2 separate regions of the Homo sapiens genome follow, and region 2 is linked to region 1. Evidence: fine-mapped expression QTL. Tissue or cell type: whole blood. Region 1 holds a variant in brackets; the other region holds the start of a gene. All regions are shown on one strand. Distances are from middle to middle.

Region 1 (6,644 bases):
TCAGTTCGAGACTAGCCTGGCCAACATGGTGAAACCCTGTCTCTACTAAGAAACAAAAATCAGCCAGGTGTGGTGGTGGGCGCCTGTAATCTCAGCTACTCAGGAGGCTAAGGCAGGAGAATTCCTTGAACCCGGGAGGCAGGGGTTGCAGTGAGCCAAGATCACACTACTGCACTCCATCCTGGGCTACAGTAGAGCGAGACTCCATCTCAGAAAAAAAAAAAGATACAACTATAAAAGATACCTCATAAAGAACACGGATTCACTAGGAAGAGGCGTCATTAACTGTGCCCTTTTAGAATATTTTGTCCATTAACTTAAATATATTTAAAACCAACTAATTGGCTGGACATGGTGGCTCGTGCCTGTAATCCTAGCACTTTGGGGAGGCAGAGGCGGGTGGATCATGAGGTCAGGAGTTCGAGACCATCCTGGCCAACATGGTGAACCCACGTCTCTACTAAAAATACAAAAATTAGCCAGGTGAGGTGGCCATAGGCCTGTAGTCCCAACTACTCGGGAAACTGAGGCAGGAGACTTGCTTGAACCCAGGAGGTAGGGGCTGCAGTGAGCTGAGATCACGACACTGCACTCCAGCCTGGGCAACAGAGTGAGACTCTGTTTCAAAAAAATAAAAAAAAAAAAACTAATTTATGTGCTTGCAATTATTAGTGGTCTCTTCAACCTATAGCTTCTTGGCAGTAGTCTTTTTAAGCTCCTTGTCCATTTTATAATGGCATATATGCCACATAACCTGGCCTTCACATTGTAGTACCTTACAAATTACAGCAAAGAAGGAGGCACTGTCATGCAACATATTAAAGTAACATAAAAAGTATCAAGAGGCCAGGTGCGGTGGTTCACATCTGTAATCCCAGCACTTTGGGAGGCCAAGGTGGGTGGATCACAAGGTCAGGAGTTCAAGACCAGCCTGGCCAAGATGGTAAAGCCTGTCTCTACTAAAAATACAAAAATTAGCCAGGTGTGGTGGTGGGCGCCTGTAATCCCAGCTACTTGAGAGGCTGATGCAGGAGAATTGCTTGAACACGGGAGGCGGAGGTTGCAGTGAGCCAAGATCGTGCCACTGCCCTCCAGTCTGGACGACAGAGTGAGACTCCATCTCAAAAAAAAAAAAGTATCAAATTAAGTACAGTAGCAGAGTATAGCTTTATCTAATACTATGCACTGAGTTACATACCTTACTTTTTGGAGGGTCTTCTAAAACCTTGCTATAATATGAGAGGATCTTGATTTTCTACAACTAAGTAAAAGATAACATGCTGCTCCATTTTCTTAAATGATGAAGGGATGGCTTTCCTAACATGGAACACTTAACAGATGACTACCATTATACCTAAATATAAAAGATGGTAAGAACTGATTTCCAGAAGGACTTCAAAGGATTGGTTCGGTGAAGGAAACAGAGTATATCATGATAACATACTATACAATTCAAGGAAGATATCTGACTTCCTTTCTTAGCAGCTCTGCTGCATGTTGGTTCCTAGTGTTGCCATTATTAACTGACAATCATAGAATGGCTTCTGCTTGCTTCACAACTGAAACTAGGAGGGCGGAGGGGAGGAGGTGGCAAGAGGGGTAAAGGCAGTAGCAGTAATGATGGACCGGTTAATAAGAGACTCTGAGTGTGATGTAAATAGTATGTTTATTAAACAATAGAGCCCATTGGAATTTTTTTCTTCCACGTATTGTTAGATGTAAAACCTGATACACTACCATACAGACAGGTGATTGACTAGACCTTGTTTATGTAGTTCTAATGTGGAATACTTAGAGTTGTTATGAATTACGATTATCCATAACTTTTGAATCTAAAAAGCTGGCTACACAACGTATTTTGTTGGAATCTTTTTGTAATACCAAATGTCTACACTCTTTGATCTAGAGAATCACAAAATTTTAGAAACATCACTACCCAGGTTAATTGACTTTTTTATTGTTTACTGTCCAAATACCTGTTACATATTAATAGTATTCTACTTTATATACCTGTAATAAACTATTCAGGGTTTCTTAAGCTGGTTGTTGAAATGTTTTGTAATACTGCTCTTCTTACCTTGTTATAGGAACTTTTATAATAAACCTGAAAAAGTGAAACATATCTTTCCCAAATAAATAGCAGATTATATAAATGAGCCAGCTTCATGGATCATGTATTGAAATAATTAGTTGTAACCTATAAAGTTTGTAAGCATTCTTACAATAGAGGCAATCTTAAGATTACTATTATTAGGACTTAAGAGATTTGAGAAGTTGGGAGCTAACAAATTAAGACCCTAATGGTATATGTCCTTAACCTGTAACAGGAGTTTATTTTGTCAAGCTATTTTTCCCATCCTATTCATTACTACTAAAAAATATTGCTTAAAAACATTTTCTTCCTTCGTGAGGCTTCTTAGAATGTTAAATTTACCTTCTAAAAATTATACACTAAGTTATTTTACAGGAAAACAGCTTCTTAGGATTAATGTAATATATATATGCAAAGGTCAAATGAAATATTTTTGTGGATGGTAAGAAAAATTTCAACTTACATTTTTGCAACTTCTTTAACGATATCACGGCAGGTCATTTCTTTCATCTATAGAAAATAAAATGTATACTGTTCATCAGAAGAACATTTTCCACTTGTGTAATAACTATTTTCACTTTTATACTCAGATATAAAACCAAGGAAAATAACCTAAAGTCTGAAAAAGACCAGAATCGAAGTTTCCTGATTCATATTTTAATGTTTTGAAATTTATACTCCAGGCTGGGTGCAGTGGCTTGTGCCTGTAATCCCAGCACTTTGGGAGGCCGAGGCGGCCGGATTGCCTGAAGTCAGAAGTTCGAGACCAGCCTGACCAACATGGTGAAACCCTGTCTCTACTTAAAAATACAAAAGAGCTGGGCATGGAGGTGGTGCGCGCCTGTAACCCTAGCTACTCGGGAGGCTGAGGCCTAAGAATCTCTTGAACCCAGGAGGCAGAGGTTGTAGTGAGCCGGGATCACGCCACTGCACTCTAGCCTGGGCGACAGAGAGAGAGACTGTCTAAAAAAGGAAAAGAAAAAAATTTATACGCCAAAAAAGATATTCTGAGATAACCTGTAGTTACCACTAACTTTGTGACAAAATTATAAAAATCCACAGCCATCTATGAATCTGTAGGCAGACCTGAAGTTTGAACGACTGGTGAAGACATCTGATTTTCTTTATAGCCAAGTTAGGATAACAAAATGCAAACAAGTCATTAATATTTACTATATGCAAGATACAGAAAGATGAAGGAAGGAGTAAGAAGTTATCCTTCGTGGAACTATTCAAAGCAAAAATGCAAAATACCAGGGAAAGCTTTGAAGAACCAAGATTTGAGCAGGTTCTTAGAATA[T/C]AGATTGGATTGGATTTGATTTCAAGAAAGATGAACGTGTAAAGCAGAAGTGGGAAGCCAAAAACTTTTTTCCAAATTAGAATTAAGCATTCTTTCAATGAACATTTGGAAATCAAGGTAGAAAAATATCCCTAGGGCCTAGCTGAGGAGTCTGTATGTTGTTGGGTTTTGATAGTAACCAGTCCAAGATTTTGTTATTAGACGTGGGTTTCTGAATAGACAGGCATTTCTGAACAGACATGACAGGATCAAAACAATGTTTGAGCAAACTGCCCTTCATCTACTGTGGATATGTTGGGGGATGATGGAATATAGTGAAAGATAATGGGTGCTCATACAGCAGTCTAGACTTAAGGTGATTCAACTACTATATATTAAACTAGATTATCTTTTATTTTTTAATTTTGAAATCTGGATGCTCAAGCTCTGCCTGCACAACCACATGAGGAAGAAGGAACAATGACAACAAAAATAACACTAAATTTAAATTTAAGAGTACTACTTTTAGGAAATAGACAAACCATTATTTGGGTACAACTAAAGGCAACTGGCATGGACTCAAATATTTTGGGGAAGAAAAAGACTAAAAGTTCTAAGGAAGAAAATGCGAACCTTGATAGTTTGAAATAGTTAAAAAGACAGTGTAGAAACTGCTTAGGCAGTTTGATTATGGACTATTAGATGATACTTGGGTCTGATAATGGTATAAGGAGAATAAAGTATTTAGGGATCCAATATTACGCCTGCAGCTTTTTCCAAATAGTTCATGGGGGAGGGGGATGTGTAAGTGGTTAACTGAAGTCTAACTAGATAGGTTTGTTGTAAGCTTAGGATGTTTACAGTTCTTCATGTTAAGTTGAGCGTGATGGGAAGGGAAAGAATGCTGATCTTTAAATTTTTGTCCTTAGTTAAGTTCTGTATTTAGTGAATTAATTGCATCCTAAAAAGTCAAACTTGAAAAGCACATTTTAAATGGCAAATCTATTTTTTACATGTTTGTGAAGTTTTTATTTTTTAGTAAACAGACCATCAGAAGAGAACAATGGTACAGAGCAGGGGTCAGCAGATGGATTTTGTAAAGCATCAACTTGTAAATATTTTCAAGTTTATTAGCTGTATGGCTCTGGTTTCTGTTCCCTGTTCCAAATGTTAAAGTCTACTGTTGTATTCTAAAAGCAGCCATGGACTGAATGTAGCTGTGTTCCAATAAAACTTACACAAAAGCAGGCAGTGGGCCATAATTTGCAACACCTGATTCACAGCATAATTTTGTCACAAACTGAAAGTGTTCCTCAATTAAAGTGATTTTTTTTTCTTGATTTTTCTCTGGGATTTATTGTTTTTCCCATTCCTTGCTAGGATTTAACTACAGAAAGACAGATAGTAACTGCTCTAAATATTCTAATTTCCTTTATTTTTTTGAGATAAGGTGTCGCTCTGTTGCCCTGGCTGGAGTGCAGTGGCGTGATCATAGCTCACTGTAGCCCCCAACTCCTGGCTGGGGCTCAAACAGTCCTCCTGCCTCAGCCTCCCAAGTAGCTGGGACTACAGGCACGCACCACCTCACCTCGCTAACATTTTGTTTTGGGAGATAGGGTCTTACTCTTTTGCCCAGCCTGGTCTTGGAACTACTGGGCTCAAGCAGTCCTCCCAACTTGGCCTACCAAACTGGTAGGATTACAGGGGTAATCCCCCTCAACTGACATAAATATTCTAATTTTCAAATTTCCATATAATAGTATGGAGAGATGAAAACAAAAGGAAAAGAGTAGAAGATAGGAACCTAGCATCATACTAGTAAGTGTGCAATGGAAAAGAACATAGGTCTAAGACTCATAAGGTCTGGATACTGTTCAGAACCAGCTGATTCTGTGGTCCTATGCAGTGTGTTTAATCTGCAGTTGAGCTTGGGCTAAATGACCTCTAAGATCCTTTTGTCAGCTTTACTAAAATACGAAACAAATTAGGTTTTATAGGGGGTTCTAGAACTTAGCATTGTATAAATGCCAAGCACTAATAAGTATTTTCTAGAAGCTGGTCTTAAATAAGTTGAATGAGTAATTAGTTGAGCAGGGTTCTAGTACAGCATTAACATTAAATGTATGTGAAATTGTATCTCACTTCAGTTTACCAAAACACTGATAAATGGTATGCCTGCTTTTTAGGCAAGTTTCTGACAGGTAATCAATAATATTGAAACAGTATCCATGAAGTCTTTAAGTTGATCAACGCATGGCTAAAAGGAAAACCAAGTTTTTAAGAAAACTTTTTCACACTAATAGCTGAATTTTGTGAAAGAAAAAGTGGGTAGTCGTAAGAGTGTAGGCTTTATGCCTTACCTGGCTAGGAGCAAAGCTAAGAGAACCGGTGGAGCACAGCCAGACATAAAAGCTGTGTTCCAAAGAAAGAATATAGGAAAAATATAACTTTTTATTAACTCAAAATTTTAAACAAAATTTTCAAACTAGAGCTCACAGAGATTCATAAATAGGTTTCAAGGATTTTGTGAAATCATATCAAAAGTTGTGTTTTTCTAGATTGAGGCTTTATAGCAGTTATTCAGAATCTATAAAGGGATGTATAACACAACTCTACAGATAATATGTTACCAGCTTTCCCATTCAGTGACTTAGCAGCTTCATAAACTCTCAACATCAAACCACACTATATCCTTACACCGAGCTTCCCCAGCCACAGGCCACATGGGGCCAAACACAAATTCGTAAACTTTCTTAACACATGATGAGATTTTTTTTTAAGCTCATCAGCTATCATTAGTGTTGGTGTATTTTATGTGTGGCCCAGGGAAGCCAAATGATTGGACATCCCTGCCTTAGACTGAAATGTCTGTGGTGATAAAATTTCACTGCATTAGGATGACGACATAGTAAAAATTCAAGCATTAATTATTACCTGAAGCTTCTCTATTTCCGTCTTTGCAGCTTGCCTGGCTTTGCCGATGGCACAGCCCCAATAACCCTATTTAGAAAAAAATATATATAATCACTGAATTAGTACACTATCATATGTAATTAATGACTACTAATGTTTCTATAACCTAGTGAAAGGATGCTAAATGACTTTTAAAAGCAAGTATAGAAAAATATAGTCAAACACATTCTGATGAATGCCAAAGGGCTCAAAAATACTAAAATACCAAACAATTCCAAAACAACCTGTATTTTTAATAAAGGTATATCCAAAAATATGTAAATTATGTAATCATATACACTTTAAGACATTTTGGGGAAC
Region 2 (6,644 bases), 31 kb before region 1:
AAAAGAAATATTGCTACTAATATTAACACTAACAATACATAATTGTTTATTGACATAGCCACATAAAGGTAACATCTTTTCATAAGGAAAGTATCATTTGGAAAATTCATTTGCTAAAAGCTGCACTTGAAAGGTTTTAAGTCTGAATTCAGCCGATGAATGCAGATATGAACTGATGGCTCCAGACTTGTAGGTATACCTAGTTTACCACACTAATCTTCTTAGTATAAAAAAATAAGCGTTACTAAGAAACATCTACTTTCAGCAAATGGACACGACCAGAATGATACATAGAAAGATGTAAGAAATGTCACTCTACCACTCATTTTAATTTTTACAGTAACAGGATGATTGCTATCTCAATCTGTCATTTTACCTTTTTTTTTTTTTTCCGGAAGTTAAAGTGTATCCATACAAGTTCAACTTAACATTGTTAAGTGCAAAGTTAACAGTGTACACTTTGGAGATACGTTTTGAAGTAGAAAATGATTTTTTGTTTTCTAATAAGTTTTCCCAAGTAATATTAAAGAAGGTTAAATATGTCATTTACTTCGAGAAAATAGAAAACCACGAGAAAGTTTGGGAAAATGCTATATTTCAGAGCTTAATATGCTGAAACAGTAAATAAGACAGGAATTGGGTACCTTTTAAAGTAAGTGCATTTACAAAAAATACAAATTGAATAGGAATGCTTTTGGCAAACAAAAATCTGACCTGAAACATTCAATGGCCACAGCATTCAAGAACGCTATATGAGATCCTTTCCCTTTAACCATCCACATACTGATATTTGCAGTCATCCTCAGTAGAATATGTATCTTTTTAGTATATGTTTTAAAATACTTATTGGAAAGATTTAACTAAAACTATTATTATACTTCAACTTCAAATATTTTAGCCACATAAGTTCATTTTACACACAGAAGAAATGATACCTTCATTACTTAATCCACGTATTCTTTCTTTTAGAAAATCGCATTGGCACACGGGAAGAAAAAAAATTTACAAAAAATCCCCCAAAGAACCAAAGCAGGACAAAAGCTTTACTTCTGCAAAGGTTGCTGCCAACACAGGAAGTGTTTAAAAATACTATCCGAATGGACAACAATTGAAAGGCTGCACCAGCCTTTCCAAAGTACTGCTACAGAGAGGGCCTAAACTCCGCATTTAGACACACAGATCATTTTTCACCCATTCAACACATCCTCCTATGCCGAAACTGCTGATCAGTAGGAACATCAATTTTGAGTAGCAAAACAAATGACATTCCACGGCACTAGCCTTAGGATTGGCAGTGTTCAGGGCGCGAGGATCGGGGCAGAGTTGACTCCACTTACCTTCATTTTTGTTGGTGATCTGTGGGGTTCCAGCTCAGCGAGCTATCTTCGCAGTCGCTAGAACTATGGGGAGGGGGAAAGACAGGCACAGACATAATCAGTCAACTGCGGGGAGCGACCAAGGGAAAGAAAGTAAACAAACGCCAGCGGGGAGGGGCAGAATCCTCACCAGCCAAGGGACAAGACCCCTTACGAGGGCAGCCAGGACGCAGGAGCTGAGGGGGCAGCGAGAACCCCACGAGCGCCAAAGGGCAGCCCGTTCCGCCCCGGAGCTCGCCAGCGGCCCACCGCGCCCCCGCCTCGCTGGCCACTTTGACCCGGAATGCTCAACTCGGAGCTCCAGGACAGATAGCTCCGGAAAAGGCCAGAGCTCCCTTCGGGCTTCCCCAGGTCCCCCGCGGAGACGACCGCCGAGCCTCCGCTCCGCGGTCCCCCGGATACCCCGACTTCGGCCCGCGCCCCGCCTCCGCCGCTCGGCCCCCTCGGCCCGCCCCGGGCCCGCGGTGGCGGCAGCGGAGTGTCACGGCGCCATTGCTCTCCTTCCTTCGCTCTGCACCATGTCAGAAAGGAGAAGCGCTCCTTCACCCAAAGGGGCAGGGGCCGCGGCCTTCAGCCGGGAGCCGCCAGAGCCCCGGGGGACCCGCGTGGGGGAGGGGGCGGGGGGCGGAGGGGAGGAGGAGGGGAGGTGGCCCGGACAGGGTGTGGGAGGGGAGGGGAGCCGCACCGCAGCAGCCGCTGCCTCCTCCCAGCGCCCGCCTCAACTTTTTGTACAGCCCAGAGAGGTATCAGCTCGTAGCCCCTCGAGTCCTGCCACGGACTCCGCAGAGGTGGACGCGCCGCGGAGTTGGGGGACGGCTCCCCCAAGCAGCCCGCTCTTCACCGCGCGGAAGCAAACTTAGCGGCGCGGCCAGCCCCACAGCCATTTTCCCGGGAACCCGAGGAAGCGGACGAGGAGGCGGCTGCAACTGCGGCGGCGGTTCCTGCAGTTGCTGCCGCTGGTCAATGGCTGGCCCCTTCCCTTGCGCTCGCCGTGCCACTTGCCTAGCATCCCTCTCCCCACCTCCAAAGCTTCCAACTGCACCGGGACCTCGGGCAGCAGCAGCTGCTGCTACTGCCACTTCGTCCATTCAGTATCCCCGGATTCCCCTCTCCCCACCTACCAACTGCGGGTGAAGTGCGCGCTGTCAGCTCCAGAGTCCTCCTCCCCTCTGACCTCCGTGGGCCCCCGTCCGGGCAGCACCACTCCCAGCCGCGGCTGCAGTTCCTGCGCCGGGTTCCCCACTCGCCCCGATTTACTGCCACAATCCACCAAATAACAAGCTGTTGAGCAGACTCGCTTCTACACGAACTCCTATTGGCTGCTCATGACGCCGAAGAGCTTCGGATAGGACCTCGCTACCTGCCGTCCTCATTGGATGTAGCTGTGAAACTTCATGGATTGGTGAGAAAAACAGCAGGTAGGACATCTTCCACTTATGATTGGCTTTTTCCGAAAACCAACTTTATTGGAGAGTTGGTTATTGAGTAAGCAAGTCCTGAGAAATGATTGGTAGAGACGACTCCGGATGTGCTTGACTGGGCACTGATTGGTGAATTGAGGGGTCAGGAAGAGCAGTTCGACACGAGGATTGGCGGCGGAGTGTCCCATGGAAACGGAACCCAGAATTGCAGCCAGGGGCTTGCACGGGGGCGGGGCAGGGTCTGTCCAAGGCGCTTGCGCTAAACCAGCTTGTCGGCGCCATTTTGTCTCGGCAGCGGTGGCCGTAGCTCCATCGCATTTTATGTTTCTGGCGAGAAGGGAACGGAGTTTTCATCAGGTAGATTGGTTTTTGTGCGGCCGTCCTCCACCGTTTCCTCCAGGACAGCACCTAGTCGTGGCCGGAGGAGTCTCAGAGCTGTCAGAAAGGTCAGTTGGAGGCTATGGTTGTCCGATTGACTGGGGGGATGGCGCAGCCCTAGCGGCACCGGCACCGGAAGTGAAGGGGCCGCAGGCAGCCATGGTAAACTTCTCCCTGCGGCGGGGTGGGGAGAAGGGGCGGGATGAATGGGGGCGAGGCTTCCTCTCCCGCCGAGATAAAGAGGTGGAGGAGAGGCAAACGTCTTTCTTGGAGGTTCTCTTTCGGGTTTTCGAGAATGTGAGAGATTTTCTGGGTTCTGTCCCACTGCAATCTTTCCTGTCTTTGGAAGTGCATTTCGGGGACTTGCCATGTTCTCCACCTGATTGGCACCAGCTGTGGGAGCCTTCTTAGTTAAGACAGGGAAGAAGTGGTTCTTAGAAACATCCTGCATGGGTAGAGGTTTCCGCGTGCTCCTCACGGGATAAAGCTATGAGGAAACTGGAGAAAGCGCTGGCTTTCTGGATGCTGAGGAATTTACTTGCCAGCGCAGACGCTTCTTCTGTGACCTTAGACAAGGGTCTGTCACTCTGCACGAGGCTTATGCTACTTTTTGAAAGCAAACAGTGGTTTTGCAGGGACTGAAAACATCTTAGACAAAAGGACGTCCCCGATAAGATAGACGTTGATCTTTTTCTGTTAACATCTTATATTCTGTTAAACGAAACACACATTTTTAAATAGCGGAATTGGAGTATAAAATTGACTAGTTTTATAGAATGGAGTAATTTTTAAAATGTGACATATCGTCAGTAATCCACGTGGACTAAATTTTCTCAGTAAGAAAACAGCCGAGCAGAATCAGTTTTTTATTCGTAACAGTAATTTTGCTCAAAAGTATTCATAAAAACGTGAAATGCATGTTGGCATTTCTAGTGAGTGACCTAGTCACACTGGATAGATCCTAATAGTTACCCTCAATACCTCTGTTTTAAACCCTACTGCTATATTGGTGGCGCCCATAACTAGAAAATGATTGTGTGACTTAACAATTACTGGGTTTTTTGGCAGTTGTGCTGAAGAAAACAGAACATCTCAGTGATTACTGAGGTGAGTCATAAAGTCTAAAAATCCTTAGAATTGCGGGGGACTACCTGGAAAAACTTTCTATGGATTAGTAAAGAAATACCAGAATGGGAGGAAGGGTAGTTAAAAGATGTTTTGTTTGGTCAGATTCAAATGAGTCTGTATAATTAGCTTTCTAGTGTAATATTTTAGAATGAAATCCCAAAATTAGGACATCCTTATGGACTTGTTTACCCATTTACGTGGTTCTCATTTCTGGACTTTGATATACCTCATGTTTTTGTTATAAAACATTATGCGTATTTTTGTGATTTCCTCCCCCCCACCCGCCTATTTAAAAAGTTCTTATATAGAAAAGATCTTGTAAATGGGAGTGTTTAGGAGTGAGGCTTTTTTTTTTTTTTTTTTTTTTTTTTTGGAGACAGAGTCTCTCTCTGTCATCGAGGCTGGAGTGCAGTGGCGCAATCTCGTAGGAGTGAAGCAGTTTTTTAAAAGACCTTATAAAACAATATATTACTGAATTTTCTAGGGGGTAAGCATCCATAATTCTACGATCAAAGTTTAAACTGTTATTATTGAATCCAAATAATGCATGGACATTTGGAAATTATTAAAAAGCCCAAAGAAGAATACAAAAATGTCTTCCCTCCTCCAAAAGGTAGTTACGGTTTACACTATAGTTATATATTATACAAAAGGCTTTGTCTTTTTTGTTGGTTTTGTTTTACCAAATATTCTAGTGTTGTTCATTACCGTCTATTCTTTATAGAAAACATTGGGAATATTGGAAATATCTTATCGTAAAGCATCTTTTATGTCTTCATAGTGTTTTGTGGGATAAATATATCATAATTTATGTAACGTGTTTATTTTTCTATAATGGCAGTAATATGTCAGTGAATATCCTTGTACATGTTTTGCAAAATATTGTGTCTAAGAAGGTCGTTGCAAAAGTAATCGTGGTTTTTGCATTATTGGAATTTGCCATTTGATGTTGGACTACGTTGTTAAATAAATGTGGTTATGTTATACATCATTTTAATGGGCATTTCTCGCTTTGTTCTTTTGGTAATGACTTATTACTCTCTGTTTATTTCATGTTTATTTTATTTTATTTTTGAGACAGAGTCACGCTCTGTCGCCAGGCTGAAGTCAGTGGCACCATCTCGGCTCACTACAACCTCTGCCTCCCAGGTTCAAGCAATTCTTCTGCCTCAGCCTCCCGAGTAGCTGGGACTACAGGCGCGTGCCACCACACCAGCTAATTTTTTGTATTTTTAATAGAGCCAAGGGGCTTCACCATGTTAGCCATGGTGGTCTCGATCTCCTGACCTCATGATCTGCCTGCCTCGGCCTCGTAAAGTGGTGGGATTACGGGCATGAGCCACGTGCCCAGCCTTCATGTGTATTTTAGACAATGAAAATGATGTTAGACAAAAAAGCAAATTCGAGCAGTTTTCGTTTTTGAGTTAAAAATGGGTTGTAAAACAACAGAGACACCATATCAGCAATGCATATGGTTCAGGAACTGTTAACTTACAGTGCAGTGGTGATTCAAGAAGTTTTTTTGTTGTTGTTGTTTGAGATGGAATCTTGCTCTTTCAGGCTAGAGTGCAGTGGCATGATCTTGGCTCACTGCAACCTCTGCCTCCTGGGTTCAAGCCATTCTGCCTCAGCCTCCCCAGTAGCTGGGATTACAGGCACGCACCACCATGCTCAGCTAATTTTTGTATTTTTAGTAGAGATGGAGTTTCACCATCTTGGCCCAGGCTGGTCTCGAACTCCTGACCTCGTGATCCGCCCGCCTTGGCCTCCCAAAGTGCTGGGATTACAGGCTTGAGCCGCTGTGCCTGGCAGTTTCAAGAAATTTTGCAAAGGGAAGGAAAGTCTTGAAAATCAGGAGCGTAGTGGCTGGTCGCCAGAAGTTGATAACTACCGGTTAAGAGCAATCAGCAAAGCTGATCCTCTTAAGGCTACTTGAGATGTTGCCGAAGAACTCAATGTGGACCATTCTACAGTCCTTCAGCATTTGAAGCAAATTAAAAAGTGAAAAAGCTCGATAAGTGGGTGCCTCATGAACTGACCGAAAAAAAAAGTCATTGTTTTGAAGTGTCCTTATCCCTTATTTTTTGCAACAACAAACCATTTCTTGGTCAGATTGTGATGTGCGAGAAAAAGTGGATTTTATACAACAACTGGTGATGGCCAGCTCAGTAGATGGACTGAGAAGATTCTCCAAAGCACTTACCAAAGCCAAACTTGCACCAAAAAAAGGTCATGGTCACTGTTTTGTGGTCTGCTGCTGGTCTGATCCACTATAGCATTCTGAATCCTGGCGAAACCATTACATCTGAGAAGTATGGTCAGCAAATCGATGAGATGCACC

What was found. PIP is the estimated chance that this variant, and not a neighbour inherited with it, causes the effect.
Region 2: PSMA3-AS1 starts here. The variant in region 1 is fine-mapped to the expression of PSMA3-AS1 in whole blood (INTERVAL, PIP 0.98).

Annotation. Positions count from the first base shown.
Region 1 is chr14:58,263,432-58,270,075 of GRCh38, reverse strand. PSMA3 (proteasome 20S subunit alpha 3) reads right to left here. Exons shown (of 11, transcript NM_002788.4): 7 at 6,306-6,371; 8 at 2,556-2,602. PSMA3-AS1 (PSMA3 antisense RNA 1) reads left to right here. Exons shown (of 4, transcript NR_029435.1): 4 at 2,683-4,711. Among named protein-coding and RNA genes, the nearest start is that of LINC00216, 21 kb to the left of the region's middle. The variant T/C (reference allele first, on the strand shown) is at 3,393.
Region 2 is chr14:58,294,554-58,301,197 of GRCh38, reverse strand. It overlaps PSMA3-AS1 (PSMA3 antisense RNA 1), which reads left to right and starts at 3,061. Exons shown (of 4, transcript NR_029435.1): 1 at 3,061-3,243. ARID4A (AT-rich interaction domain 4A) reads right to left here and starts at 2,643. Exons shown (of 24, transcript NM_002892.4): 1 at 2,498-2,643; 2 at 1,338-1,400. The coding sequence starts at 1,343. RefSeq lists a silencer at 1,554-2,073 and enhancers at 2,704-2,793, 2,904-2,953, 2,974-3,393, 2,690-3,413.